Linked DNA regions of Homo sapiens. The protein of the gene in region 4 interacts with the protein of the main gene of each other region in a biochemical or structural test. Each region holds a gene or a part of one and is shown on either strand. Other genes may lie near its edges.

The links.
Region 1: the proteins of OTUD3 (region 4) and CGAS form a complex in vitro, tested with the Homo sapiens proteins (one study listed by BioGRID).
Region 2: of the proteins of OTUD3 (region 4) and FOXN1, one has a biochemical effect on the other in vitro, tested with the Homo sapiens proteins (one study listed by BioGRID).
Region 3: of the proteins of OTUD3 (region 4) and HNF1B, one has a biochemical effect on the other in vitro, tested with the Homo sapiens proteins (one study listed by BioGRID).

What each region holds. Positions count from the first base shown.
Region 1 is NC_000006.12:73,442,264-73,449,297, forward strand, and holds part of CGAS (cyclic GMP-AMP synthase), read right to left. Parts: intron 3,485-7,034; coding exon 3,265-3,484; intron 1-3,264. UniProt on the Homo sapiens protein: Nucleotidyltransferase that catalyzes the formation of cyclic GMP-AMP (2',3'-cGAMP) from ATP and GTP and plays a key role in innate immunity.
Region 2 is NC_000017.11:28,523,341-28,530,374, forward strand, and holds part of FOXN1 (forkhead box protein N1), read left to right. Parts: intron 1-600; exon of another isoform or gene 601-615; 5' UTR 616-629; coding exon 630-752; intron 753-1,162; coding exon 1,163-1,627; intron 1,628-1,841; exon of another isoform or gene 1,842-2,221; intron 2,222-2,232; exon of another isoform or gene 2,233-2,805; coding exon of another isoform or gene 2,806-2,832; intron 2,833-3,907; coding exon of another isoform or gene 3,908-3,910; coding exon 3,911-4,021; intron 4,022-5,753; coding exon 5,754-5,884; intron 5,885-7,034. UniProt on the Homo sapiens protein: Transcriptional regulator which regulates the development, differentiation, and function of thymic epithelial cells (TECs) both in the prenatal and postnatal thymus.
Region 3 is NC_000017.11:37,686,030-37,693,063, forward strand, and holds the end of HNF1B (hepatocyte nuclear factor 1-beta), read right to left. Parts: intron 1,364-7,034; coding exon 1,343-1,363; coding exon of another isoform or gene 1,251-1,342; 3' UTR 402-1,250; downstream 1-401. UniProt on the Homo sapiens protein: Transcription factor that binds to the inverted palindrome 5'-GTTAATNATTAAC-3'. Binds to the FPC element in the cAMP regulatory unit of the PLAU gene. Transcriptional activity is increased by coactivator PCBD1.
Region 4 is NC_000001.11:19,878,574-19,885,394, reverse strand, and holds the start of OTUD3 (OTU domain-containing protein 3), read right to left. Parts: upstream 3,001-6,821; 5' UTR 2,882-3,000; coding exon 2,661-2,881; intron 2,243-2,660; exon of another isoform or gene 1-2,242.

The DNA.
Region 1 (7,034 bases), on a different chromosome or scaffold from region 4:
TCTCCTACATCAGCCATCTCTCCCTCCCTGCTAGATTATTCTGAAATTCATACAAAGGGTTATAGGGTATACCTCTCCTTTCACCCCACATCTTCCTCCTCTCCATACTCACCCATCTTTCTGCTTCCTTCCAGCCCAAACTTTTTTTTTTTTTTGAGACAGGGTCCCGTTCTGTCACCCAGGCTGGAGTGCAGTAGCGTGAACATGGCTCACTGCAGCCTCAACCTCCTAGGTTCAAGCAATCCTCTTGCCTCAGCATCGTATGTAGCTGGGACCACAGGCACATGCCACCACTCCTGGCTAATTAAAAAAATGTTTTTTTCTTTTTTCTTTCTTTTTTTTTTTTTTTTTTTCTGAGACAGTCTTGCTCTGTCGCTCAGGCTGGAGTGCAGTGGCGCAATCTCAGCTCACTGCAACCTCTGTCTCCCAGGCTCAAGCAATTCTTTTGCCTCAACTTCCTGAGTAGCTATGATTATAGGTGTCTGCCACCACGCCTGGCTAATTTTTGTATTTTTAGTACAGACGGGGTTTCATCATCTTGGCCAGGCTGGTCTTGAACTCCTGACCTTGTGATCCGCCCACCTTGGCCTCCCAAAGTGCTGGGATTACAGGCATGAGCCACCATACCTGGCCTAAAATTTTTTTTTGTAGAGATGGACTCTCACTTTGTTGCCCAGGCTGGTCTTGAACTCCTGGGCTCAAGCAATCCTTCTGCCTTGGCCTCCCAAAGTGCTGAGACACCACAGTTAGCCCAGACAGAACTTTCTAGAGTGGCCTACACATGTTATCTCCACTGCAACCCTGCCTTTTCACTCTGTGTCCATCACCCCACTGACATTTCTCTTGTCAACCCCACAAGACCAAAGAACAAATCCATTGGATTTCTGGATGTCAGTAGCATTCCAAACACTGACCGCTCCTTCTACAAAACACTCATAGTCTCCTTTTGTTCATTCTCTTCTTCCCAAACTCTTTTTTTTTTTTTTTTTTTTCTGAGACAGGGTCTCACTCTGTCGCCCAGGCTGGAGTTCAGTGGCGCGGTCTCAGCTCACTGCAACCTCCGCCTTCTGGGTTCAAGAAATTCTCTGCCTCAGCCTCCCAAGTAGCTGGGATTACAGGCACCCGCCACCACGCCCGGCTAGTTTTTTGTATTTTTAGTCAAGACGGGGTTTCACCATCTTGGCCAGGCTGGTCTTGAACTCCTGACCTCGTGATCCACCCGCCTCGGCCTCCCAAAGTGTTGGGATTACAGGCGTGAGCCACGGCGCCTGGCTCTTCCCAAACTCTAATGGAATTCTCTTCTTACCACTCTACTTAACATTGCAACTTCCCCCCCACCTCCATCTCCCACATTCCTGATCCCTCTCACTTTGCTATACTTCTTCACAACAGCACTTACTACTTTCCAGTATACAAGATAATCATTTTTTCCATTTGTTATTAATTGTACGTCTGTGCTTGCAAGATAAAGCTCTTAATCTAATAGCGTAATAACATACAACACAAATTGCAGTGAGTGCTCTGAAGGGAATAAACTGGGAAAAGTGATAGCAATTAGGGTGGAATGGGGTGGTGGAGCCAAGCCCTGAGGCAGAAAAAAAGAGCTTGGAAAGATCTAGGAACAAAAAGAGACTCTTTCGGAAAAGATGAAGTTATATGAAATGAAGCTGAAGAGGCAGCCAGGGACCAGATTCTGTACTGACTTGTAGACCCTGAAAAGGACTTTAGATTTCATTTTATTTTTGAGACGGAGTCTTGCTCTGTCGCCCAGGCTGGAGTGCAGTGGCACGATCTCGGCTCACTGCAACCTCCACCTCTCGGGTTCAAGCGATTCTCCTGCCTCAGCCTCCCGAGTAGCTGGGATTACAGGCATCCACCACCACGCCTGGCTAATTTTTGTATTTTTAGTATAGATGGGGTTTCACCATCTTAGCCAGGCTGGTCTTGAACTCCTGACCTCGTGATATACCTACCTCAGCTTCCCAAAGTGCTGGGATTACAGGTGTGAGCCACTGCGCCTGGCCAGATTTTAATTTAATTTAATTTAATTTTATTTTATTTTGAGATGGAGTTTCGCTCTTGTCACTCAGGCTGGAGTGCAATGCCCCGATCTCGGCTTACTGCAACCTCTGCCTCCCAGGTTGAAGCAATTCTCCTGCCTCAGCCTCCCAAGTAGCTGGGATTACAGACATGTGCCACCACACCCGGCTAATTTTTGTATTTTTAGTAGAGATGGGGTTTCTCCATGTTGGCCAGGCTGGTCTCAAACTCCTGAGCTCAGGTGATCCACGCACCTCAGCCTCCCAAAGTGCTGGGATTACAGGTGTGAGCCACTGCGCCTGGCACCAGATTTTATTATCTGATCATTGAGAAGCCAGGTTTTCATCAGAGAGTAATGACTGGCTTTGTATTTTAAAACATTTACTCTGGCTTCTAAGGACAGATATTATAAGAAGGCAAATAGGGAGATTAGAAAGGAAAATGATGTAATAGTTCAGGTAAAAGATGGTGGCAGCTTAGGTGGGGTGGGAGTAGGGTGCTGGGATTGAAGCAGCAGACAGGTCCAAGCTGTAGCAGCACTTGCATCTGGATTAAGCGTAGGGGGTAACAGAGAGGATTAAATTAAGATGGTTCCCAGGTTTCTGGATGGTGCGTCTGGGTGGATTGATTGTGCCATTTTCTGAGATGGGAAGGACTGAGGCAAAACATAGTTTGGTATATGAATTAAGTTATGTTTATTCGCTTTGGATATGTTTGGTTATAGATTCCTGTGGTACATCAACATCAAAGTGGATATGTTAAGGACGTAGCTGGATATAGGTTTGGAGTGCAAAGGATATATTTGGGCTGCAAGTAAACATTTGGGAGTCATCATCATATAGGTGGCATTGGGAATGGATGAAATACCTAGGCAGAGAGTGTAGATTCATTTATCCATCAATTTAATAAATATTCATTGATTATTTCATATAATTTAATCATTTAATTTAATCAATATTCATTGATTATCTAATGTGTAGGTGTTCTAGTTATTTAGGATTCATTAGAGAACAAATAGATAAAGACCTCTACCCTTCTGTACTTTATAATCTTGTAATCATATTATAAGTAATTGCCAATGTACACTCCTCTACTGATGTTTCTTGACCTCTCTACTGCACTTTTTCTTACTGCAGAGAGGTCAAGAAACATGAGAATGGGAGTGTACATTGGCAATTACTAGGTATAATTAAACCTTTAAGAATCAAAAGGCAAAAGTCTTACCTTTAATGTCGTTAATTTCTTCCTTAATGATTTTCCTAAACTTTGACAGCATCTTAGAAGCTGATAATATTTCACCTTCTAAAAACTGACTCAGAGGATTTTCTTTCGGATTTCTTTTAAATTTCACAAAGTAATATGCACGAGTGTTGGAATATTCTTCTAGTTGAATTCTGGGGACTTCCAGTTTAAACATGACATCAAATTCATTAGGTGCAGAAATCTAAGAAACAGTAAAAATAGTACTGAAATATTTGCTTATGAATATTTTCCAAGTGACTGGAACTTTTTAAAAAATTTCCACTTAAAACTTTACTTTAAAAAGCAAGATTCATAATGTCTATATATACCCTCTGGGAGTGGGACTAGTGGAGCTGGCAGGAGGTGGAAGAGTATTACCAGTTTCATTTTGTAGGTTCTACACTCAATTAATTTTTTTTACCATGACCTAGTATTATTTTTATAACTAAAAATGATTTTAGGCCAAGTGCAGTGGCTCACACCTATAATTAAATTTTGTGGGGCCAGGTGCAGTGGCTCATGCCTGTAATCCCAGCACTTTGGGAGGCCAAGGCGGGCGATTCACCTGAGGTCAGGTGTTCGAGACCAGCCTGGTCCAACATGGTGAAACCCCGTCTCTACTAAAAATACAAAAATTAGCCGGGCATAGTGGCATGCGCCTGTAATCCCAGCTACTCAGGAGGCTGAAGCAGGAGAATTGCTTGAACCTAGAAGGCAGATGTTGCAGTGAGCCAAAATAGTGTCACTGTACTCCAGCCTGGGCAACAGAGCAAGACTCCATCTCAAAAAAAAAAAAAAAAAAAATTTGTGTATGATATGTGGTAGGGAATCAAGGTTCATGTTTTTCCTACATAGATATCCAATTGACCCAGCATTATTTATTGAAAAAAAAAAATCGGGCCGGGCGCGGTGGCTCACGCCTGTAATCCCAGCACTTTGGGAGGCCGAGGCGGGTGGATCATGAGGTCAGGAGATCGAGACCATCCTGGCTAACAAGGTGAAACCCCGTCTCTACTAAAAATACAAAAAAAAATTAGCCGGGCGCGGTGGCGGGCGCCTGTAGTCCCAGCTACTCGGGAGGCTGAGGCAGGAGAATGGCGTGAACCCGGGAAGCGGAGCTTGCAGTGAGCCGAGATTGCGCCACTGCAGTCCGCAGTCCCGCCGGGGCGACAGAGCGAGACTCCGTCTCAAAAAAAAAAAAAAAAAAAAAAAAAAAAAAATCGTCCTTTCAGCCAGGCGCGGTGGCTCACGCTTGTAATCCCAGTACTTTGGGAGGACGAGGCAGGCGAATCACAAGGTCAAGAGATCAAGGCCATCCTGGCCAACATGGTGGAACTTCGTCTCTATTAAAAATATGAAAATTAGCTAGGTGTGGTGGCATGCACCTGTAGTTCCAGCTACTCAGGAGGCTGAGGCAGGAGACTTGCTTGAACCCGGGAGGCGGAGGTTGCAGTGAGCCGAGATGGTACCACTGCACTCCAGCCTGGGCGACAGTGCGAGACTCCGTCTCAAAAAATAAATGAATACATATTTTAATCAGTTTGTCAATTTAATTTAAAAAACTGATCATATTTCAACTGATTGCATTAAATCTAGAACAATTTGAGGAAAAATGAACACGATATAGTTGTCAATTACTTCCTCTTCAAATTTACCCAGTTATGTTTTTAAGTTTTGAATATCTTTAGTGATATTTATTCCTAAATATTTGATTTTTAAATTGTTTTTCAAGTTTTCAGTTTTTTGTTTTTTTTTGAGACAGAGTTTCACGCTTGTCACTGAGGCTGGAGTGCAATGGAGCAAGCTTGGCTCACTGCAACCTCAGCTTCCTGGGCTCAAGCAATTCTCCTGCCTCAGCCTCCCAAGTAGCTGGGAATACAGGCGCGCACCAACACGCCCAGCTAATTTTTGTAGTTTTAGTAGAGACAGGGTTTTGCCATGTTGACCAGGCTGGTCTCAAACTCCTGACCTCAAGTGATCTGCCTGCCTCTACTCCCAAAGTGCTGGGATTATAGGCGTGAGCCACCATGCCTGGCCAAAGTTTTCAATTTTTATTTTTTAGAGATGGGGTCTCTAGGCTGGAGTACAGTGGCTACTCACAGATAGATCATAGTGTACTGCAGCCTCAAACTCCTGACTTGATGTGATTCTCCCACCTCGGCCTCCCAAATAGCTGGGACTATCAGAATGCACCAATGGACCTAGGTTTGATATTTTTGATGATATTCTAAATGGTATTTTCATTTTGTTTTTAATCTTGTTAGTATATTGAAATATTTTTATTTTTGTTTATTGACTTTGCAACCAGCAATTTTGCTAATTTACTAATTATTTCCAACAGTTTATATGTGAAGCCAATCAAGTCATCTACACATAACGATTTCATCACTCTTTTTCCCATCTTATGCCTTTATTTTCCTTGTCTTGCTGCATCAGCTGTATGTATTCCTTTACGTTCTTTTTGTTGTTGTTCAACATTATTTATGTAATTCATTTTCACTGTTCATGTTGCTGTAGTTTGTTCCTTTTCTTTACCAGTTAATATACCATTACTTAAAACCACTGGCCGGGCACAGTGGCTCACGCCTGTAATCCCAGTACTTTGGGAGGCTGAGACGGGTGGATCACCTGAGGTCAGGAGTTTGAGACCAGCCTTACCAACATGGAGAAACCCCATCTCTACTAAAAACACAAAAAATTAGCCAGGCATGGTGGTGCATTCCTGTAATCCCAGCTACTCGGGAGGCTGAGGCAGGAGAATCGCTTGAACCTGGGAGGCAGAGGTTGCAGTGAGCTGAGGCCACCCACGCCATTGTACTCCAGCCCAGGCAACAAGAGTGAAACTCTGTCTCAAAACAAAACAAAACAAAAAACAAACAAACAAAAAAAACTACAATTAATTGATTTCTATGTAACCTTTTCACTGAGTCCAAACTATATAAATAGTAAAGTACATTAACACTTAGAATGAAAAGAACATATGGACTGACAATTCTACAGGGAATTTCTACAAGAAACTTCCCATGTATTTTCGAGATTTTTTTTTACCTAGAATTTGTAGTCCCAGGTAGCTGGGACTACCTGTGTGTGCCACCACATCCAGTTAATTTTTAACTTATTTTTGGTAGAGCTGGGGTCTCACTATGTTGTCCAGGCTGGACTCAAACTCCCGCCTCAGCCTCCCATGGTGCTAGGATCACAGGCATGAGTCCACTGTACCTGGCCCACATATATCTCATAATCAGTAATAGAAAAAGTTTTAGGCTGGGTGTAGTGGCTCACGCCTGTAATCCCAGCACTTTGAAAGGCTGATGCAGGTGGATCACTTGAGGTCAGGAGTTCGAGACCAGCCTGGCCAACATGCTGAAACCTTATCTCTACTAAAAATACAAAATTAGCCAGGTGAGGTGACGCCCGCCTGTAATCCCAGTTACTCTGGAGGCTGAGGCAGGAGACTCACTTGAACCCGGGAGGCGGAGGTTACAGTGAGCCAAGATCACATCACTGCACTCCACCCTGGGTGACAGAGCAAGACTCCATCCCCAAAAAAAAAGAAAAAAGAAAAAGAAAAAAAGAAAAAGTTTTAGATAAAACAAATTTCACTGGATTTCTTTTCATTGGCATAATTTTTAAAAACAAAGTGGTTCTGGGCTGGGCATGGTGGCTCCCACCTGTAATCCCAGCACTTTGGGAGGCCAAGGCGGGAAGATCATGAGGTCAGGAGATAGAGACCAGCCTGGCTAACACGGTGA
Region 2 (7,034 bases), on a different chromosome or scaffold from region 4:
CCGGGGGCCTTTGGGTCCCCAGTTACACACTGTGGTCACATCAGCCAGGCTGACCTGAGGGTCACTGCAGGACCAGCCTCTGCTGAGGGCTGGCTCACCTGCATGGAGGGGGTTGCTCCCACCCCAAGCATGAGTCTGACCCACGCACCAGCTCACTCTCCCCTCAGGACCACCGACTTGCCCAGTCACTGAATGGAGACCACCTGCTGTGGTCACCTTGCCAGGCCCTTCTCTGTAGACACAGGAGACCGATCTTGAGGAGCCAGAGGCAGAGCCCAGCTGGGAGCCGGGGTTTCACTGGTCAGTCGGTCAGTCTCTGCAGCTGCAGCCTGAGATCAGCCAAGCCCCTCCTGAGGCTCCTACCTGGCTCACTTTGCCCTTTCTCCACAGGGGTCTGATCTCTCTGCTCTGCTTTTCCAAACTATTTCTCTTTCTCTCTCTCGCTCTCTGGTTCTCTCTCTCTCTCTCTCTCTCTCTCTCTCTCTCTCTCTCATCAGATGGCTGACTGGAGGCAGGGTCCCAGCCCAAGGATGGGGTTGGGGTGGAGGTGGCGAACCTGGGTTGGTCCCCACTGGATGCTGGTCCTCACTCTCATGGCAGACGGCTTTCTTTGAGGCCAGGACTGGGTGATGGTGTCGCTACCCCCGCCGCAGTCTGACGTCACGCTGCCGGGCCCCACCAGACTGGAGGGCGAGCGCCAAGGGGACCTCATGCAGGCACCGGGCCTCCCAGGCTCCCCTGCCCCACAGAGTGTAAGTACCCGGCATCTGGGCCTGGGTTTAGGCCAAGGCCTGCGGCTGCCCAGGCAACAAGAAGACCAGTCACCTTACCGCCCCCAGGGACCTCCCAGGGCCTGTCTTGTCCCCTCCACCAGCAAACAAGTCCTCAGGGACCCCGAGATCCAGAGGGGTCACTCCTCATCCCTTCAGTCTGAGCCTGTCCCAGGGCTGTGAGCCCCATCAGATTTGGGGTACCCCAGGTTTCATGGCAGGGTGCCCTCATGAAATCGGGGCCAAGGGTAGGCTATTTCTTCTCCACCATTTAGGGTCTTCCCAGAGCTCAGCCATAGACCCCCTTTACCCCAGAACAGAGTAGGGTCCCAGCCAGTCCCCAGGCCTGGTTCAGCCTCCACTCACAGGCTCGCTACTCTCTGTCTACCCAGAAGCATGCCGGCTTCAGCTGCTCGTCATTTGTGTCCGACGGCCCTCCAGAGAGGACACCCTCACTGCCCCCACACAGCCCCCGCATTGCGTCACCAGGGCCCGAGCAAGTCCAGGGCCACTGCCCAGCCGGCCCCGGCCCTGGGCCCTTCAGGCTCTCACCCTCAGACAAGTATCCTGGCTTTGGCTTTGAGGAGGCCGCAGCAAGCAGCCCTGGGCGATTCCTCAAGGGCAGCCACGCGCCCTTCCACCCGTACAAGCGGCCTTTCCATGAGGACGTCTTCCCAGAGGCCGAGACCACCCTGGCCCTCAAAGGACACTCCTTTAAGACCCCAGGGCCGCTGGAGGCCTTCGAGGAGATCCCAGTGGACGTGGCGGAGGCCGAGGCCTTCCTGCCTGGCTTCTCAGCAGAGGCCTGGTGTAACGGGCTCCCCTACCCCAGCCAGGAGCATGGCCCCCAAGTCCTGGTGAGTACTAGTGGCCAGCGAGTGTCCCATCTTCCCACTGTCCCAGTTCCTAGCAGCCTAGAAAGAGTCAGACCTCTGAGACCAAAGTCCCACCTTCTCTTTGCAGACCTTGCCACTCAAGACCAGAGAGTTGGGGCCTCCTGGTCAGCTGGGGAGGGGTGTTGGCCTGGCCAGCATGGAGGGGGGCAAGTGGGGGAGGTAGGCCAGGCTAAAGAAGCTGGCAGCTTCCCAGAGGCTCCTGAGTCAGGATTCCAGTGTGTGACTTCTCACTGTTTGTTTAAATGTCCAGAAACTCCAGCCAGACCTACACACCCATATGCAAATGTGACAAGAAAAACACATTCCAGAGGCCAAGGGAAAGGGTTTGGGGAGGAGCCATAGTACACAGTTTTTCCCTCCCCAGCCTTAGCATACAGAGTTGAGAGAGGACTTTAAGTGTGGAGGGACCCTTCCTGGCCCCATTCTTTGCCCAGAGTGGGGCCTGGGTGTATTCCTGGAAATACCTTGGAAGGTTAACATGTCCTTCCATAGCCTGACCTCCATAAGCGGCGTGACCCTGGACAAGTCTTAACGTCTCTGAGCCTCATCTGAAAAGTAAGGTCAACATTACCTGTCTCATGGGATTGTTGCTTAGGGAAGATAAAAGCTAAAGGGAATTTGCTCCCTGCTCCCCCGCTCTGGTTTGGAGGTCCCTGAGGCAGTGACTGAGTGGGCGTAGCCTCAGCAGTGCCTACTCCACATGCCCACCAGCCCCCCTCACCTCTTGCTTTCAAACAGGCCCCCATTCCAGCCCCAAGCCACCCCAACAAAGGCTTAGAAGGAAGATGGAGAAGGCGGTTGGGTCCTACCAGGTGTGGCCAAAACAGGACTTTATTCTGGCCCTTTGACCACTTCTTCTCAGGCCCCTTAAACATGACCACAGCCTACAGATAGGGCACCATCATCTCAGCTACTGCCCCCAAACCTCCACTCAATAACAGCTGCCAATCATTCTGCCAGGTGCTTTCTTTCAAGTGCCCCCATTTAATCCCCTCAACAACACTCTAGAGAGTTCCCACCATACCCGTGTTGCAGATGAGGAAACTGAGGCTCATAGAGGCCAAGTGACTTGCCCAGGGTGTCTCCTAACCTGCAAATGGTGAGGCTGAGATTGAGTTCACACCCTTGCCCTCCCACACATGGAGAAGAGCTCCAGAGACACACAGGTATCTGGTCGACTTGCTGGGTGACCTTGGGCATATTGCTTCCCCTCTTTGGGCTCAGCCCCATCATCTGTCAAATGAAGGGGTTGGACACAAGTGCTCTTGGCCCTTCTAGGCCCGAGATTCTATGATTATGGCAATCTCTGCATCAACAACCCCAGGGCACACCCAGAGAGAGGTCACAGCTGATTTGCCCCTCTGGGCCCAGATGCTGGTTTCCCAAGGCCCCTGGTAACCCCAGGAAGTGCAATCCGCCTCCTCCAGGGCTTGTCCACCTTCCGGGGCCTAGCTGCACACCCTCCTGTCCGTACTCACCGGAGAGCTCTGCACTAGGCCCTGGGACTCTGTGCCGGCCTCTCACACATGGGAAGGCGGAGTCTGGCCATCATGGCTAGCAGCAGCTGCAGGCTCCCCATGCCCAGTGTGAGAGCATCCACAGGACTCACGCAGGCCAGCAACTGTGCAGACTCCCTGGAGCAGGGAGCAAAAGCTCTGCATCAGGGATGGCCAGGAGTCAGAGCGGAGAGGAGTTACTAGCCCCATTCAGAGATCCTGCTGGAGCTTCCTGGGGCTGTACAGAGGAGGAAACAGAAGGGACCCAGGCCCACAGCTGGACCAGCCTGTCTGGCCACTACCCATGCTCCCCTCACCATGGATCCTCAGGGAGAGTTCTGGAGCTGTGACCTTTTCCTGGTGTCCTTTGCACACCTACTCAGAGGGTCTGAGACCTCTGAGTCAGGCGTGTCGAGTGAGGTCAGCACCGTGCCTTTGTGCTATTCCAGAAGATCCCTGTCCCTACCCCAGCACAAGTCTCCCTGACTTCTCAGGACAGCCCAGCCTCAGCCTCTCCCCTGCCGTGAGGGGAGGCGTAGGGACTGCTGTCAGTTCCAGCCCCGGCTCTACCACTAAATTGCTGAGTTCCCTTGGGAAAATCTCTGCCCTTCTCTGTTCTCTGTTGTTCTCCAGGAATAAGCTTTGGGGGAAGCAGAATAGGGGTTGCTTTTATGTAAGGTTCAAGACACAGGAAAGAGGAAGGGAGAAAATAAGGCCTAATCTAGTCATCTGCTTTCTCTTCCAGCAGGGTTCAGAGGTCAAAGTCAAGCCCCCAGTTCTGGAGAGTGGTGCTGGGATGTTCTGCTACCAGCCTCCCTTGCAGCATATGTACTGCTCCTCCCAGCCCCCCTTCCACCAGGTGGGTCTGGGGCAAGTGGGCCTGCTTCCCCCAGGTCTGAGGATATCGTGTGTGTGTATGTGGTGTGTGGGTGTCTATGTGATGGCATGTGTTCACCAGGATAGGCAGATAAGGACAGCAGGGCCCTGAACCTTAGGCTTGGCCACAGCAGGTGGCGGGAATAGTTAATGGGAAGAGAAGCAATTGCCCTCCTCCAGGGGTGGGCTTGTCTGAGTCCCTGGCAAGGCCTGAGAGGCCTCAGATAAGAGTGTGGGGCTGAGATGGAGGCAGGGCTGTGATGTGAGCCAGAAATGGGGGAAGGAGGAGAGCTGCCCCAGACAGAGAGAGGGGCAAAGAGGAGTGTGGTGTGAAACACAGGCCGAGCAGGTCGAGGAACAAGGGCTTCTGTATAGTCAGCCACCATCTTGCTATGTGACCTTGGCCTCCAACTTCTATTAGCCTAGAAAGGGTGGGCACCCAGTGTGGGCTTAGGGGACCTTCCCACCCAGAGGACTCCAAGTCCCCATCATCTTCAGCCCTTTCCTCCTTTCCCAGCTTCAGCTCCTCCCAAGTGTATAGGATGCCAAGTAATTGCCCCACACTGGCATGGGATGGAGGAGTTTTAAAGGAGAAAGAAAAGAGCCCCAGAGCAGCCAGGCAGCTCCCAGGAGTCACCAGGCAAGACAGAGCAAGTGGCTGCCCAGCGCCCAGCTCCATCCACCTGCAGCCTGGCACTGAGACAGGCCCTGCCTGTGGAGCAGGTTCTGCACCCGGCTCTCTGGCACTGGCCCTGATCTCAGCCAAGCCAGGGAGGAAGGCAAGGGAGAGGGGCTGGGTCAGACTGCTGGCTTTGCAGGGAAAAGAAAGAGATAGAGGGAAGCAAAGAGAAGGCATGAGAGGACATCCTCTCTGCCATGAGGGGCCTGGGTGGAATGACCGAAGCTATCCTGAGGCTCATGGTCTGACCCAGGGTAGAGGATGTCCCTGAGGCAGGGACAGAGATTGAGCCACAGAAGGACTAAGGGGCCACCAGACCTTAAATGACCTCACCATGCCTGGCCCTGCTTTGATGGCCTCTGCAGTCTGCACCCCCTCTCAAGATGGCCACACCCAGGGCTTTATGGAGCCTGGACCGAGGTGACTCAGGCACTAAATGTCTCTTGGGTAACCTGGAAAGAGCTCTTCAGCCTGGAGCAGCTGGGGGAGTCAGAGTCTCCTACCCCCATCCCCCATAAAACACCATCCGTGGCACCGCAGCCACTCCCTTTGCCGTAAAACCACCTCCTACCCCGACCTGTCCACCACCATGACTGGCCCTTTCAAAGAGCCACTGAAACTCATAAAAGGTGGCAGTGCCCAGCAAACGCCCAGGCTGGACATCCTGCTTCCGGCCCAGCTGCTCTGGGAGATGCACAGGCACTGGGAGCACCTTCCTGGAAGGGTGCAGGGGCCGAGGGCTTCACTTCATACTCTCCCTGCAGGGTCCCGTCACCATAGCAACCAGAGCATCAAAAGGGCTGAGAGGAAGGAGCTGGAGGAAGAGGGTTTTAAGGCCTCTGAGATCCTGAATTACAGGGTGTGGATCTCCTCACAGCCCCTCAGACAGCTCTGCTTTGGGGGTGATGGGGCCCATGACCCAGGAGGGAAGAATCTGGCCTGAGCCCCTTCTCTGGATGTATATAAATGGGGAGGAGGGCCCTCCTGGGAAAGGCTGGGTACCATGCAATCACTCTGCCCCTTTTGACCTCCTCAGTACTCGCCAGGTGGTGGCAGCTACCCCATACCCTACCTGGGCTCCTCACACTATCAGTACCAGCGAATGGCACCCCAGGCCAGCACCGATGGGCACCAGCCTCTCTTCCCAAAACCCATCTATTCCTACAGGTACATTTCCCACTCTCCAGGGATGGGAGGAGGAGGGGAGTGAGAGGGCCCCTGGGAACACTGAGGCATGGAATCCTCTGGGTCTACCAGTAATGGCAGCAGGTGGAAATCATACCAGTGGGCTTCCAGAAGATGCTGGAGAGAGGGTTCCTGCATGAAGGCAGGGGCATAGACTGGATCAGCTCTGACCCTTTGTCTAAGCCTGGGGAGTCATGTCTGTGACTTGACTCAGCAGATGCTGGTGCCATGTGATGAGCCTGCCAAGGTCTCACCTCCTAGGGCCCAGGGCCTGGATCTGAGAATTTAAGGGGGATGCTTGCTGCCTTCCCTGTGCCTCCCCGGAAACAGACGGAAGCCCCCCTCAAAGCTCTACTGGAAGGAAATGGGGGATGAGGCCTGCAGATGTGACTCGGCTATCCACCATCTGCCAGATCTGGTGGGACTTCTCTGGGGCTGGGTTCTTAAGTGTCAGCAGACCCAGCCTGTCTGGGAGACCCTTCCATCTGTCCTTTCATTCATCCAACCAACAGTGACACTTGGCCAAATATGTGTCAGGCCCTACATGGGATCGGGTCATCAGCTAGTGTGAGCTGAGGGGAAGGGAGAGGAACTTAAGCATCAGCCAGGAGTGCAGAGAAGGGCTTTGTGAAAGGCAGGATCATTCACTGAAAGACATACACGCAGCTCTTGGAGTCCAGCAGAAATGAGTTCAAGACCAGCTGTGGAACTGACCAGCATGAAACCTCAGGGAAGTTACTTAATCTCTCTGAGCCTCTATTTATTCCTCTTTAAAAAAAAAAAAAAATGTCAGGGGTTGGGGGCAAGGGGAGGGACAACGTTAGGAGAAATATCTAATGTAGATGACGGGTTGACGGGTGTAGCAAACCACCATAGCACGGGTATACCTATGTAACAAACCTGCACGTACTGTACATGTATCCCAGAACTTAAAGTATAATAAAAAAAATAAAAATATAAGACTTTTAAGATTCAAAAGAAAAAAATGTCAGGGTTTGGGGTAGCAGTTCAGGCTGTTGGAAGGATTAAGTAAGAGAATGTAGGTACTGTGCTTGGTACATTGCATAGGCTCAAGAAACCTTAGTTCCCTCCCTACTCTCCAACATTCATGCAATTGGCTGAGGACTAACTA
Region 3 (7,034 bases), on a different chromosome or scaffold from region 4:
TTAAATGAGGCTAAACAATTTACCCGCAGAGTTTTCATTCATCCTACTTTTTGTCTGTTTCTATCACATGTCACCCACCAAGAATTGACTCTATGACTTTACCCCTGTGAGTTGCAGGGAAGAAAAGGGTGCTAGCTCCTGCTCTGGCCAGATTCCCTCTGAGCGACTTGTGGAGTCTTACTGGGGGATTCAACTCTTCTTCACCTCAATCAGCAGTAAAGCCTACACAGACACTGGGAGCATGACGGCAAGAGAAGGCCACCCACCTCTCTACACCCCTAGATGACACACTACAGGATCCCAGTGGAGTATACAGAAAATTCCAAGGAGACCAGGGGCCAGGGGTTCTCGGTGGAACCATGGCAGGGAAAGTATCAGAGACAGAAATATGAGACTCTGGGTAGTGATAAAATAAATTGTTTTAATGGAAGGCTTTCTGAGACTGCAACTTTTTCTTCTGCTATCAAACAGCCAGTTTCCCTGCCCTGGGGTTTCTTAGGGAGTGCACGGCTGAGCTCCTGGCCCACAGGAAGCTGGCATGTTACTCTGACACACTACATTCAGCCCCTCCAGGGATCCAGAGGTGTGTCTTAATGTCAGGAGACTGGAGTTAGCTGGTAGTCAGTCCAAGGTATGCTGTCCCCATAAGTGTCCAGGCCCGCGGGAGAGGACAAGGGGCTTCACTTCCCACTTAGGATGTTTCTCCATGAGGGGAGAGGGGACAGATCACTTTTGAAATTTTGACTCTGACCTTTACAAAGAAAACTAATAGACACTTTAGTATTATATACAGGGCAGAGGGGAGAGGACACAGAGGGGAAATTGCACTTAATTACAGTAGTTTATAGTTTACAGCCATTGGACAAATTTACTTCTTTAAAAGAAATCTCAAGATCATTTGGGATGGGGGCAGGGGAGGGAGTCTGTGGATATTTACAGTGTGTTTGGCTCAGTTCAATAGCACATGTCCTTCTCTCCTCATTTCAGTAACAGATTCAAGTTTTCGCATCAGTTTGTTCGATGAAGGATCACAACATAGACAGTACGGCTTTCTTGCTTCCTCTTCGGAGGTTCCTTGTCTCCCACCTCCAGGACAGACAGGAGTCCTTGACATCGTGGGAGAGGCATTGTGGCAATACTGCATAGAAGGGAAACTGGGCTTCGGGCTGCGCCTCCTGAGAGTGGATTGTCTGAGGTGCCAGCAGGACGTCCGTCAGGTAAGCAGGGACCTCTCGCAGGTGCTGGTCAGGTCACTGGGCTTTTCCATGACAGCTGCCCAGAGGGTGATGGTGTGGAAAACAGGGTCCTTGTTGTTGCGCACGAAGTAAGTGGTGTGTGGGCATCACCAGGCTTGTAGAGGACACTGCAGAGAGAGAGGAGAGAGGGTGCTCAGCTGTGTCATTTGGCAGGGTCATGGGCCATTAGTTTGGCTTCTCTAAGGGAGATGATGCCCAACTCAACCAGCAAAGAGCAGCAGGTGGAGGGCTGGGGGCCTCGTGTCTGCTCAGTTCTGCAGTTTTCATGCTGAGGCACACTTCCTGCAGGAAAACCCGGGAGCCGGCTTTCCTGGCCACTTCAGAAGAAAGAAGTGAATTGCTGGGGACCTTGAAGTAGTCTTAACTTGCTGACCTGAATCCTGAAGCTGGGCTCCTCTTTCTGTGACAGTGGCATTTATAGAGTGCTTAGTGTACTTGAAAAGGCAGCTGGATGGTGAGCTCTTGCCTCTCGTGGAAGCAAGGGTCTCTTCCTAAGACCGCTAAGAGCAGAGGCCTCCTATACTAATGCTTCTCGAACTTTAACGGACCCACAAGTACCAGAGAGCCTGTGAAAATGTGGATTCTGGTTTAATTCTGACTTGTAGGCCTGGGGTGCACCTAAGAGTCTGCATTTCTAACAAGTTCCCAGGGTGTGCCAGTGCTGCTCACCTAGGGCAGCAAGGCCAGAAAGCACACGAGAAAATGACCACTCAAACTACTCATCAGGAAGGAGCTTTGCAAATTGCAAAGTGCTTTCTACGGGTTTCTTACTTTAGCATAAGAAACTCAGAGGACCAGGGAAAGGATCCAAAGGCTGAAGGCCTCTGATGCCATCCTTGTGGGTGGGCCAGGGCAGGAGACCCCAGAATGGCTGGAGAAGCCCTCGAGAGAAGCCACCTCACCCAACTCAGGGCAGCCTTGCCCTCCAGTGCCTGGGCCTTATTCATTTGAACTGTCATGGAGTGTCACTGCTTTCCTTTTCACTTCTGGGGAGTCTCTTTTTGTCTCCCTGTGTCTCCTCCTTCCCTTTTGCTTTTGCCGGCATCTAAGGTTCTGCCTTTGACTTAGTGGCTTATTCTCTCAAGATCCCCCCAAACACACACACACACACACACACACACACACACACACACACACTTACACCTACCAATACCACTAAAGGCCACTGTTATCGCATTGATCAGTGCTCCAACCATAACCCTATATGAGGATACCATTATGTCTATTTGACAAATTAGGAAAACAAGGCTAAAAGAGAGTCAGTGAATTGTCCATGGTTTAAGAACTAGGAGAGTGTGGAGCCACAGCTTCAAACTAGCTGTCTAGGTGGCCACTCAGCATGTGCTCTTTCAATCATGCTTGGAGGTGAGGAGCCTTCTACTAAGCTTTGTGCTCTTGGACAAGTTACTCTCTCTGTGCCTCAGTTTCTTCCCCTATAATATGGGAGTTGTTGTGTGATTAGATGAGTCAACACCTGTGGAGTCCTGAGCATGGTCCTTGGCACAATTGTTATTATTAACATGGGGTTCTTCGGCCCAAGCCCCTGCTGCTCCTCAGTACTCTTAAGAGTGGGGCTGAAGGCCTGGCGCAGTGCCTCACGCCTGTAATCCCAGCACTTTGAGAGGCCAAGGCAGGTGGATCACAAGGTCAGGAGATCGAGATCAGCCTGGCCAACATAGTGAAACCACATCCCTACTAAAAATACAAAAATTAGCTGGGCATGGTGGTGCACACCTGTAGTCCCAGCTACTTGAGAGGCTGAGGCAAGAGAATCGTTTGAACCCAGGAGGCGGAGGTTGTGGTGAGCCGATATTATGCTACTGCACTCCAGCCTGGGCGACAGAGCAAGACTTGGTCTCACAAAAAAAAAAAAAAAAAAAAAAAAGAGGGGGGCTGAGCAGTGCGTGCATGTGAGGAGACAGGCTTCTGACCCTTCCACATTCTTGAGACGTTGGTCAGGGTCCTCTGATACCCTTTGCCTCCTCTTCCTCCCCTGGCCCACCCCCACTCTCAAGTCTCTTTACTTCCCACTATCAGCCTTTTTCCAATTTTCAGATTTCAGGTGGAGGAGAGAGAAAACGGCTTGTGACCTTGCAGGTTTCAAAAGAAGAGCAAACAAGAAGGGCAGATAAGGAGACGCCAGTGAGATTCTATGGCCTGTCATTAGGGATGGGCTTCCCAGCTATCAAATGTTTGCTCACATAATAAAATGGTGGCAGAGCCCAAAATGTTGTCAAAAGAACTAGAGTTATTTGCCTCCTTCAGAGTCTAAACACAAACATCTGATAAGGGGTGCACTGTGGTCCCTTAGAACTGGAGGCCCAGCACACGCAGCCCCACGGGGGCCTGGCCCAGAAGATCTCTGAGAGACCGCGGGGCCCTCCGTCTGAAAGGTGTGGTAGCTGTGGCAAATGTGAAGGACATCCTTATTCTAAGAGGATTTGTTACATAATGGTAAGAGCTAACATTTATCGACATCCTACTGTGTGCCAGGCACCATACCAAGGGCTTCACAAGCATCACTGCCTCGAGTTCTTACGTCGACCCTTTGAAGTAGGTGATTATCGTGAATTCATTTAACACGTTTGAGTGCCTACTGTGTACTTGGCACTTTTTTAGACACTGGAGATGCAGCTGTAAACAACACCCTGCCCACTTCTTCACAGGCTTTACCTCCTAGTGAAGGCTTTGAATAATAAACAAGTAAACAAATGCGTGCACACACACACACACACACACACACACACACACACACTACAACTTTAGGTGGAGATGAGCACTCCATAGAAAAATAAGCATAGAGGTTAGGGCAGCTTGAGGAAAAAGAGATTAACTTAGATATGGGAATCAGGCGAGGCCTCTTTGAAATGGTAACATTTGAGCTGAATGAAGTGAAGGGGCAAGCATGTAAAAATGCACAGAAAAAAAGAGCTCCAGGCAGACACCACAAATGCAGGAGTCCTGGAGTGGGATCTCTTCAGCCCTGGCACAGCTAAAGCTGAGCGGGTGATGGAGGGAGGAAGGAGGTGAGAACGGCGACACTGGCAGGGGCATAATCACATAGGGTCCTGTATGTCTCTGTTTTAGTTTGGTTGTGATGGAAAGCTATTGGAGAGTTTTGACAGGGGATTGACATGCTTGATGTCTCTTTGTAAGAGATCACTCTGGCGAACAGCCCCCAGTGGGGCAAGGGTGGAAGTGGGAGACAGGCAAGGGCCACCTAAGGAGATCAGGGAGAGACAAGGGGGCCTGGGCTGGGACTAGGGCAGTCCTGATGGGAGTGTGAGAAGAGGTCAGATTTAGGATGTATTCTGAGGGTCCCCTAGTAGAACTTATTGAGAGACTGATGTGATGTGGAGAGAAGAATCAGGGATACTCTCAGCTCTCTCACTTGAACAACTGGTACCAGTTTTGGAAATGGAGAAGCCCATGGGGGAAGCAATTTTGATAGGATGAAATAGGGCAAAATGAAGAGTTCCTATTTTAGGCACGTTGAATTCAAGAGGCTTATTAGATATTTTAGACATGCGTCTGTCCCTGCCGAAGCAGCACTGGATCTGTGAGTGAGCACTCAGTAGGGAAGACCGGACTGTACACAGAATTACAGGAACCATCGGCGTGTACACTTGACCTAAAGCCATGGGACTGGAGGAGATCACCCAGGAGTGAGCACAGATGAGAAGAGGCCAAAGAATGAGGCCCGGGGCCCTCCAACACATAAATATTGGGAAGATGAGTTGCCAGCTGAGGAGATGAGAAGTGGCCAGTGCCGTAGAAGAACCAGGAATGGTAGTATCCCAAACTCCCATGGAAAAAAGGAGGGAGAGATCAGCTGTGTCAGAGACAGAGGTTGAAAAGTAACCATTGGTTTCAGCAGCATGGAGGGGATCGTGAGCTGGACACAGTGAGGCGTGAGGATAAAGGCCAGTCTGCAGTGATCTCAAGAGAGAATTGAGGGTGAGGAAGTGGAGACAGTGAGGACAGATAAGTCACTTCTATGACCATGAACTTATGTGAGATTCATTGTGGCTCCATTAATTAAAAGTCATGATTATAATTCCGGTTTTACAGATGAGGGAAGTGTGGCCTGGAGAGGTGATAAGTAAGTTGGCCGGGGTCTCACAACAGCAAGGCTTGTGCTCTTCACCCCTATGTAAGAGCACTTCTTTCAACCCCCTCAACACGGGGAAATAAATGCCCTTTGCCACGTAAGACCCTTTTCCCAAACTCAGAGCCGCTCAGGGGTGCTAGCAGGGGAAGCCAAGAGTGACCCAGCTTCCATGGGCTGGGTGTTTCCTTTGGGACATGCGCTGAGTGAAGTATTTTACAGGTCTTCGTGCAGTTAGTCCTTTCAGTGATCCCATGAAAGAGGTATCATTATCTTCATTTTACAGGTGAGCAAACAGAGGCTCAAAGAGGCTAAGACATTTCTCTGAGGTCACACAGGTAGAAAGTGGTAGAATGTTGAGCCCAGATCTGCCTAACTCCCAGGTCGATGCTCCCAACCATCAGAACACTCTGCTTCCTCACCCAGTGAAGAAGCTGGGAGAGGAATAGCCGAAGGGGATAGATGATGAGGCCACCCACCTGCCCCCTTGTCAGTGCCCTGACTAGTTACTGCTCTGGGGGCCCTCTCTTCACCTTCCCATAAACTAGGAAGTCAAGCAGCGGGGAGAGAACACTGTGGAAACAGGAGTTGGCTCACAACCTGCCTGCACTTGTTCTAACTGAGGTCAGTGGTTGCTGTGGTCTTGTTTCCAGACTAGCGGGGCATTGTTGAACTCAGGCACAAACCCACTCAGAGATAACTTGCCAGCACCCAAGAGTTGAGAAGGAGGGAGACGTATGTGCTCTGGAAGGGACAGATGGCAGTAGATGCAGAAGGATTCTTGGCGCGAGAAGTCCCAGCCTGGGGTTCCTGACCTGTAATCCCCAAGGCCCTTGGGGCATGTCTGCCTTGACAACAGGAAGTACTGGGATCAGACAGATACAAGTACAAATCCTGGCTTTAGCCTTATACCTGCATAACCTTGGGTTGTTATTATGGGTGCTTAAAAGTGGATATTGGAAGATGAACGTTGTTTAATGAGTTTGGAGTGAGAAAGCCAGTCTGGAAGTCCAGCTCTGGAATTTATGATCTGTTTGAACTTGACCAGATCCATACCCATCTTTGAACCTCAGTTTTCTGCTTTGTAAATCAGGTATAAAAATAACGACCTTGCAGAATGGGTAAGAGGGTTCTCCAGGAAATGTAAGCTAGAAAAGCATCTGGGGTGCTGCTTGGAAAATGGAGGCATCAAAAAACACGGGTTCTGCATTCATTCGTTCGTTCGTTCATTCATTCTTTGTTATTTACTGAACATCTAATATAGCCCAGGCATTTGGCTAAGCCCAAAGGGTATGGGTGCTTTGACAGGCCCTGAACTATTTGCTTTTTTCCTGGGAAATAGGTGAGCAGGGAGTCTGTGTATCAGCAGGAGAATGGGAAACAGGGATCCGGAGCCCAGGCCCAAGAGGTAGGATGTGCTTGAGAGATGGTAGTAATCCTGAGACATTTTCTTCTCCCAGCCTCCTTTGACTGCATGTAGACCAAGCACTGAATTGGATATTGAAAGAGTCACTAGGCCGGGTCCAGTGGCTCACACCTGTAATTCCAGCACTTTGGGAGGCAGAGGCGGGCAGATCACGAGGTCAGGAATTTGAGAGCAGCCTGGCCAACATAGTGAAACCCCGTCTCTACTAAAAATACAAAAAATTAGCCAGGTGTGGTGGCCTGTG
Region 4 (6,821 bases):
CTGTCATCACCACATTCGAAAGGACTAGGATACTGACGAGGGCTGAACCACAGTCCAGCTAATGGAACTCATGTGAAGAACTTGTGAACAGAAGGTGGTTAGCTCCATGAAGCCCACACAAGAGGAAATACGATCATTTTATCTAACACTGTCCGAATAACAGGAACCTTGGAAGAGAGACATGAGCACTCCAGTCAAGCTGGTTTCTGGAGCCTAGCTTCACTGCCCGTTACTTCTACCCTTGTGCCCTACACTACCCGTCACCCTAAACAACCTGTAGATCTCCCAAAAACATCGTGTCCTTGTGCCTCTATATATACTCCTTCTCAGATGGGACCGTTCTCTTGGTGTACTCCTATTGGTCCTTCATGACCCAATCAGAGCATGACACCCTCTGAGAGGCATCTAGCAGTGTATCCAATGAGTATTTACCGAATGAACGAGAAGGACTTCCTGGCCAATTCATAGAGTAGTAGCCTTTTCCTTCTCAATAGTACCATTATAATCAGTCACTGTTACTAAAAATATATCAAACTATATTTTAATTATTTGTATCATCTGTTCTCAAAGTGTGACTCAAGGGACCGGAGATGTGGGAAGGTCTCTGATATGCTTTCAGGGTATCCGTGAGTTCAAAACTAAGATGTAATGTACCTTTTTCATTCTCATTCTCTCACAAGTGCAGTGGAGTTTTCCAGAGGCTACCTGATGCATGAAGTCATCACTCTGATAGCTAATGGAATGTGTGTGTATTCTTGTGTTTTAACTTTGTTTTACTTTCTAATACAGTAAATACTCATAGCTATAACCCATATAAAGTTCTTTCGGTTTCTCAGTAATTTTTAAGAATGCCAAGAGATCTTAAGACCAAAAAAGCTGAGACCCACTGTTACGTGTTTCTACCTTAGGCTATGAAGTCCTTAAGTATCTTAGTCATCAACATATTCCCAGCACCCTACTTAAGGTGTGCTGAATTAACTTGAAAAGTATGCTGTGTGTGTATGGGGGTGTGGGGATAGGGAGCAGAAGTAGTACCCCCAAAGTTTCCCATAACCTTATGAAAGCCCCCTCAAGAGTTTACAACTCCCTGTGCTAATTCCTCCTCATAAGTAACCTTCTATTGAGTACTTCAGTTTCCTGGGCACCCTGACATTGAGAATACCATACCCAGTATAGCAGACACAAGCAATCCAATCATTTGCAAGGAAAAGCCCCAATGTCCCACGCCAATTCCACTGTATTCAATTGGTATTTCTGTTTCTATAAGGGTGTCTTGGGCTTATGCTTAGGCTAGCTGACCTCCCTCTATTATTTTTATATTTCATTCAGCAAAAACGTACTGACTGCCTTCCATGTACCAAGCACTTTGCCAGATGATGGTGAATAAATGTAATCAAGTTCCAACTGCATCTTAAGCAAAAACAGCAACGCAGCAAAGTGTGGTGAACTCTTTGTGAGCAAAAAGAAATCCAATCTGCCTGAAGCAATGAGCATAAACAGGAACGGTGGGAAAGGGAAATTAGGACCAGTTCACAGTCTTAATCAATAAGCTGCAATGTAATGTGAAAATTTTTAAAACACCTTATTCTGCAGTTAATATCTAAGGCAATTCCTGGCCGGGGGTGGTAGCTCATGCCTGTAATCTAGGCACTTTGGGAGGCCGAGGCAGGAGGATCGCTTGAAGCCAGGAGTTCGAGACCAGCCTGGGCAACACAGCAAAATCACCGTCTCTACAAAATAACAATAATAATGAACTAAGGCAATTCCTTATGGTCTTTAATTTCATTTTAGTCTTCCCTCTGCAGGATCTGAGCACTCAAATACGGGGAGGAAAAAAACAAAAGCCAGGCTGTTATTAACACTCTCTCTTCCAAAGTGACACAGCTGACAACCAGACCCCTTTTTACCTGCCCCTGCAATGGGGATCCTAACTGTTCTCCCCTCTTCCTGACCCTTTTCCTTCTTCCATCCATGTTCCTGGAGCCATATCCCCTTTCTTGAAGCTAATTTTCTTCCTCCTCCCCACTCTCCCCCTCCGCGTTCCCTAAAGAAAGCTGGACCTGGATCCAGTCTAAGTCCCAAGAAAGCTTGGGGAAGCACCTTTGCTTACAGAGAAACTGAGGCCCATGGAAGGAAGAATTAGAGAAGCTGCCTTCAGCTCAGTAAACAGGCGACCTAATTTCACAAATGTAAATGGGGGCACCACCCAAAAACCAAGGACTCAAAGGAGGCAAAGCGTTCTACCAAGTGGGGCTTACTCAAACTCCTTCAACTGGTCTTATCGTCATGATAACTGTTTTTCCAATGCCTGGCTCCATCTCATTCCTTCAGAACTCAGCTTAAATGTCACCTTTGAGAGAGCCCTTCCTGGCCACAATCCAGTGGCCCTGCTCCCATATACGGTCTCAGCACCCACTTTCTATTTCGCTCGCGGCGTCTGCCATGATTAGGACCCTTTGGGATCCCCGCGAGCGTCTCGGGGCGAGGGGCTTGTCCGCCTCACTCGCAGCTGGACGCCCTGCACTCGGAGCGTGGCTGGCTCGCGGGAGGCGCCCGGGCCGCCCGAATGAATGGATGGATGGACGCGAGCGGGCAACGGTCGCCAGGCCGAGCCCGGCGCGTCCCCCGGCGCCGCCTCCCTCGCTCCCGGCCCGCCTCACCCGTCCCCCGGCACCTCCCGCAGCTTCAGCCCCAGGGCCTGCAGCTGGTTGGCGAAGCTGACGAACTCCTCCTCGCAGCCGCCGCCGCCGCCAGACTCCGGCCGATTCCGCCGCTCCTTGGCCAGGGCCCGGCGCGCCGCCCGCTCGTCCCGCTTGCGCTCGGCCTCGGCTTTCCGGCTGCCGCTGCCCGGCCGGCTCTTCGCCGCCTGCTTTCGGGACATGGCCTTAGCCTGCAGTCCCCAGCGGCAGGAGGGAAAGGCGCAGGACCCCCCAGCGTCCGCCTCAAGCGTTGGGAAGGTAAAACAGCGCGGGCAACGGAGCCCGGCGACGACTACGCAGCAACCGCGCCTGCGCCGGCGCCCAGCACCCCGGTCACATGATGGAATCCCCGCCTCTTTTGCGGGGCTCGGCGAGCAGACGCCATAGAGAGCTGGAGGGGCACCCATCTTGGTTTGTTCTATTCCGCCCTCTAGTGGTGGATGGTACTCAACGTGAGTGGCAGGAGCGACCGGAGAGGGACCAGAGAGAACAAAGCAGGAACAAGTCAAGCAGAGAAATTAAAGATGATAGAAGAGTGGAACACAGAGCAGCGGCAAAAGTTAGGACCGGAGATGAATAAAAACGATTTAAACTCTTGCTGCGAGCCTACTACAGTTGGATAGGCACTTTCACACGGCTCATTCTTGTTTAATTATCCCCAAATTACAGGAAACTGAATCTGAGTGGTTAAATAATTTCAAGATCACACAGCTAAAAGGCAGAGCTTTGCCCTGGCTCCAAAGCCCGCATACTTGTTTATTTAATCCTGCCCTTCATCTCTCCGCCTTCCTTCGTAACTCAAGGGAGAGGTCGCCCTTCTGTCCAAGACCACTGGAAATCCTAATTCCATCCTAGAGCGACCCACCTAGGTTTGCCTGGACTAGAGGTTTTCTTGGGATGCAGGACTTTCCGTTTTAAAACTGAGACAGACCAGGCTGGGCGTGATGGCTCACACCTGTAATCCCAGCACTTTGGGAGGCCGAGGCGGGCTGACCACAAAGTCAGGAGATGGAGACCATCCTGGCTAACACTGTGAAACCCCGTCTCTACTAAAAATACAAAAATTAGCCGGGCGTGGTGGCGGGCGCCTGTAGTCCCAGCTACTCGGGAGGCTGAGGCAGGAGAATGGCATGAACCCGGGAAGCGGAGCTTGCAGTGAGCCGAGATTGCACCACTGCACTCCAGCCTGGGGGACAGAGCGAGACTCCATCTCAAAAAACAAACAAACAAAAAAACAAAAACAAAAACTGAGGCCAGGTGCAGTGGCCCACGCCTGTAATCCCAACACTTTGGGAAGCCGAGGCCAGGGGATCGCCTGAGGTCAGGAGTTCGAGACCAGCCTGGCCAGCTGGCCAAGATGGTGAAACCCCATCTATATTGCGTGAGGCTGAGGTTTGGAGTACAAATGAATCTGTCACCCAGGTAGTGAGCAAAGTACACAATACACAATAGGTAGTTTTTCAACCCTTTCCCCCAACTGCCTCCCGACTCTTGTATTCCCCAGAGTCTATTGTTCCCATCTTTGTGTCCATGTGTATCCAATGTTTAGCTCCCACTTATAAGAACGTGCAGTATTTGGTTTTCTGTTTCTGCCTTAGTTCACTTAGGATAATGGTTTCCAGCTGTATCCATGTTGCTGTTCTCCCCTCTTCCTGGACATGATTTTGTTCTTTTTTATGGCTGCATAGTATTCCATGGTGTATATATACCACATTTTCTTTATCTAATCCACTGTTGATGCGTACCTGGGTTGATTCTATGTCTTTGCTATTGTGAATAGTGCTGCAGTGAACATACGGGTGCATCTGTCTTTTTGATAGAACGATATATATTCCTTTGAGTATAGACCCAGTAATGAGATTGCTGGGTCGAGTGGTAGTTCAATTTTTAGTTCTTTGAGAAATCTCCAAACTGCTCTCCACAGTGGCTGAACTAATTTACATTCCCACCAACAGTGTAAAAATGTTCCCCTTTTCCCCACAGCCTCAGCAACATCTGCTATTTTTTCTTTTTAACAAAAGCCATTCTAACTGGCATGAGATGGTATTTCATCGTGATTTTGATTTGCATTTTTCTGATGACAATAAGAATGCAAAAGAGAGTTGTAAAGATTAAATAAAAATGTAAAGCCCCAGGCATGAAGTAAGTACCTATTTAATGAAGTTGTTTGAATCAGTTCTCTGGAAATCTCATGAGCTCAGGGGCAAAGACTTTCAAACTTTAGAAACCAGGGAAGAAAGGTTTCTCACCAGCAAATAAGTAAATACAGACTGCTAACATATTGATAGAAAAGCGAACACTTGCCCGTCTTGTAAAAATCTTTTTGGCTGGGCGTGTGGCTCACGCTTGTAATCCCAACACTTTGGGAGGTGGAGGCGGGCGGATCACCTGAGGTGAGGAGTTCGAGGCCAGCCTGTAATCCCAGCTACTGGGGAGGCTGAGGCAGGAGAATCGCTTGAACCCGGGAGGCAAAGGTTGCAGTGAGCCGAGATTGCGCCATTGCACTCCAGTCTGGGCAACAAGAGTGAAACTCCTTCTCAAAACAAAAACAAAAACACAAACAAAAAATCTTTTCTGGCATAAGCCCTTAGCCTTTAGCCCACACACAGATTTTGAATGGGCGAATTTCTCTTCTCAGCGGAGACCTGTGTTAGACAGTGTCTCTAAGTGCAAATCAATGCTGCCTATAAATTATATTTAAAGGCCAAAGGGAAGGAGTATAGTACTTGTAAATAAAATGAATGCTCTGCCCACTTCGCTAGAGTTAATTAAAAGAATCATTGACCCGCACAGTGGCTCATGCCTGTAATCCCAGGACTTTGGGAGGCCAAAGTGGGGGTATTGCTTGAGCCCAGGAGTTCAAGATCTGCCTGGGCAACAAAGTGAGATTCCCCATCTCTGCAAAAAAATTTTAATTAGCTGGGCATGGTGATGCATGCCTGTAGTCCCAGCTATTCGGGAGGGGCTGAAGTTGGAGGATCACTTGAACCTGGGAGTTTGAGGCTGCAGTGAGGTATGACTGTGCCACTGCACTCCAGCCTAGGTGACAGAGCAAGACCCTGTCTCAAAAATAATAATAATAGTAATCAAACCTCATTGGATGGCAGTATAAATTAGTAAAAAGTGTGACTAACAGAATTTTAGTGAAGAAATGCAGCTTTAGGACTTTCAAGAACATACCATCAAGGGTATGGGAAAATGAGAACTCTCGCACACTGCTGTTGGGAGGTAAATTTATCTAGCCACTTTGGAGGGCAATTTGGACTGTATCTGGTAACTTTGGGGTTTTTTTTGTTTTTTTGTTTGTTTGTTTGTTTTGAGATGGAGTCTTGTTCTGTTGCCCAGGCTGGAGTGCCGTGGTATGATCTCGGCTTACTGCAACCTCTGCCTCCCGGGCTGAAGAGATTGTCAGAGATTCTCCTGCTTCAGCCTCCAGAGCAGCTGGGAATACAGGCACACACCACCATGCCCAGCTAATTTTTTTTTTTTTTTTTTTGTATTTTTAGTAGAGGCGAGGTTTCACCATGTTGGCCAGTCTGGTCTCGAACTCCTGATCTCAGGTGATCCGCGTGCCTCAGCCTCTTACTGTGCTGGGATTAGAGGCATGAACCACTGCACCTGGCCTGTATCTGGTAACATTTTAAATGTCTAGTGTCTACATCTCGTGATCTATCCTAAAAATAGAAATATTACATCTCCTCCTAAACTCCTCGTGTGTATCCGTATTCTAAATTTTCCTCGTGCAAGACGATGAACCCCAGGGTATATACTCCGGACAATGTAGCTCCTTCAAAAGTACACTCTCAGACGCAGATAGTCCTAAAGCAAATTACATGCACGTGCACTAGAAGGTATGTCCAAGTGTTGGCAGTTGGCCCGTTCAGGTTCTTGACTTAGCCACGTAAAAGAATTTGAGAGTGAGTCCAAAGTACTCCAAAGAGCAGGCAAAGAAGTTTATTGCAAAGCAAAAGTGATACAGGAGTTAAGAAGAAATCGCGTAGGCAGATAGTAAGGGCATGGGAGTCCTCGGTAAGGCTTTTCTTTTTAATGAAAAGCAGCCCCAAATCATCTTCTAACAGAGTAGCCTGTAAAGTGGAGCTGCAGACACAAACAAGCTGGGAG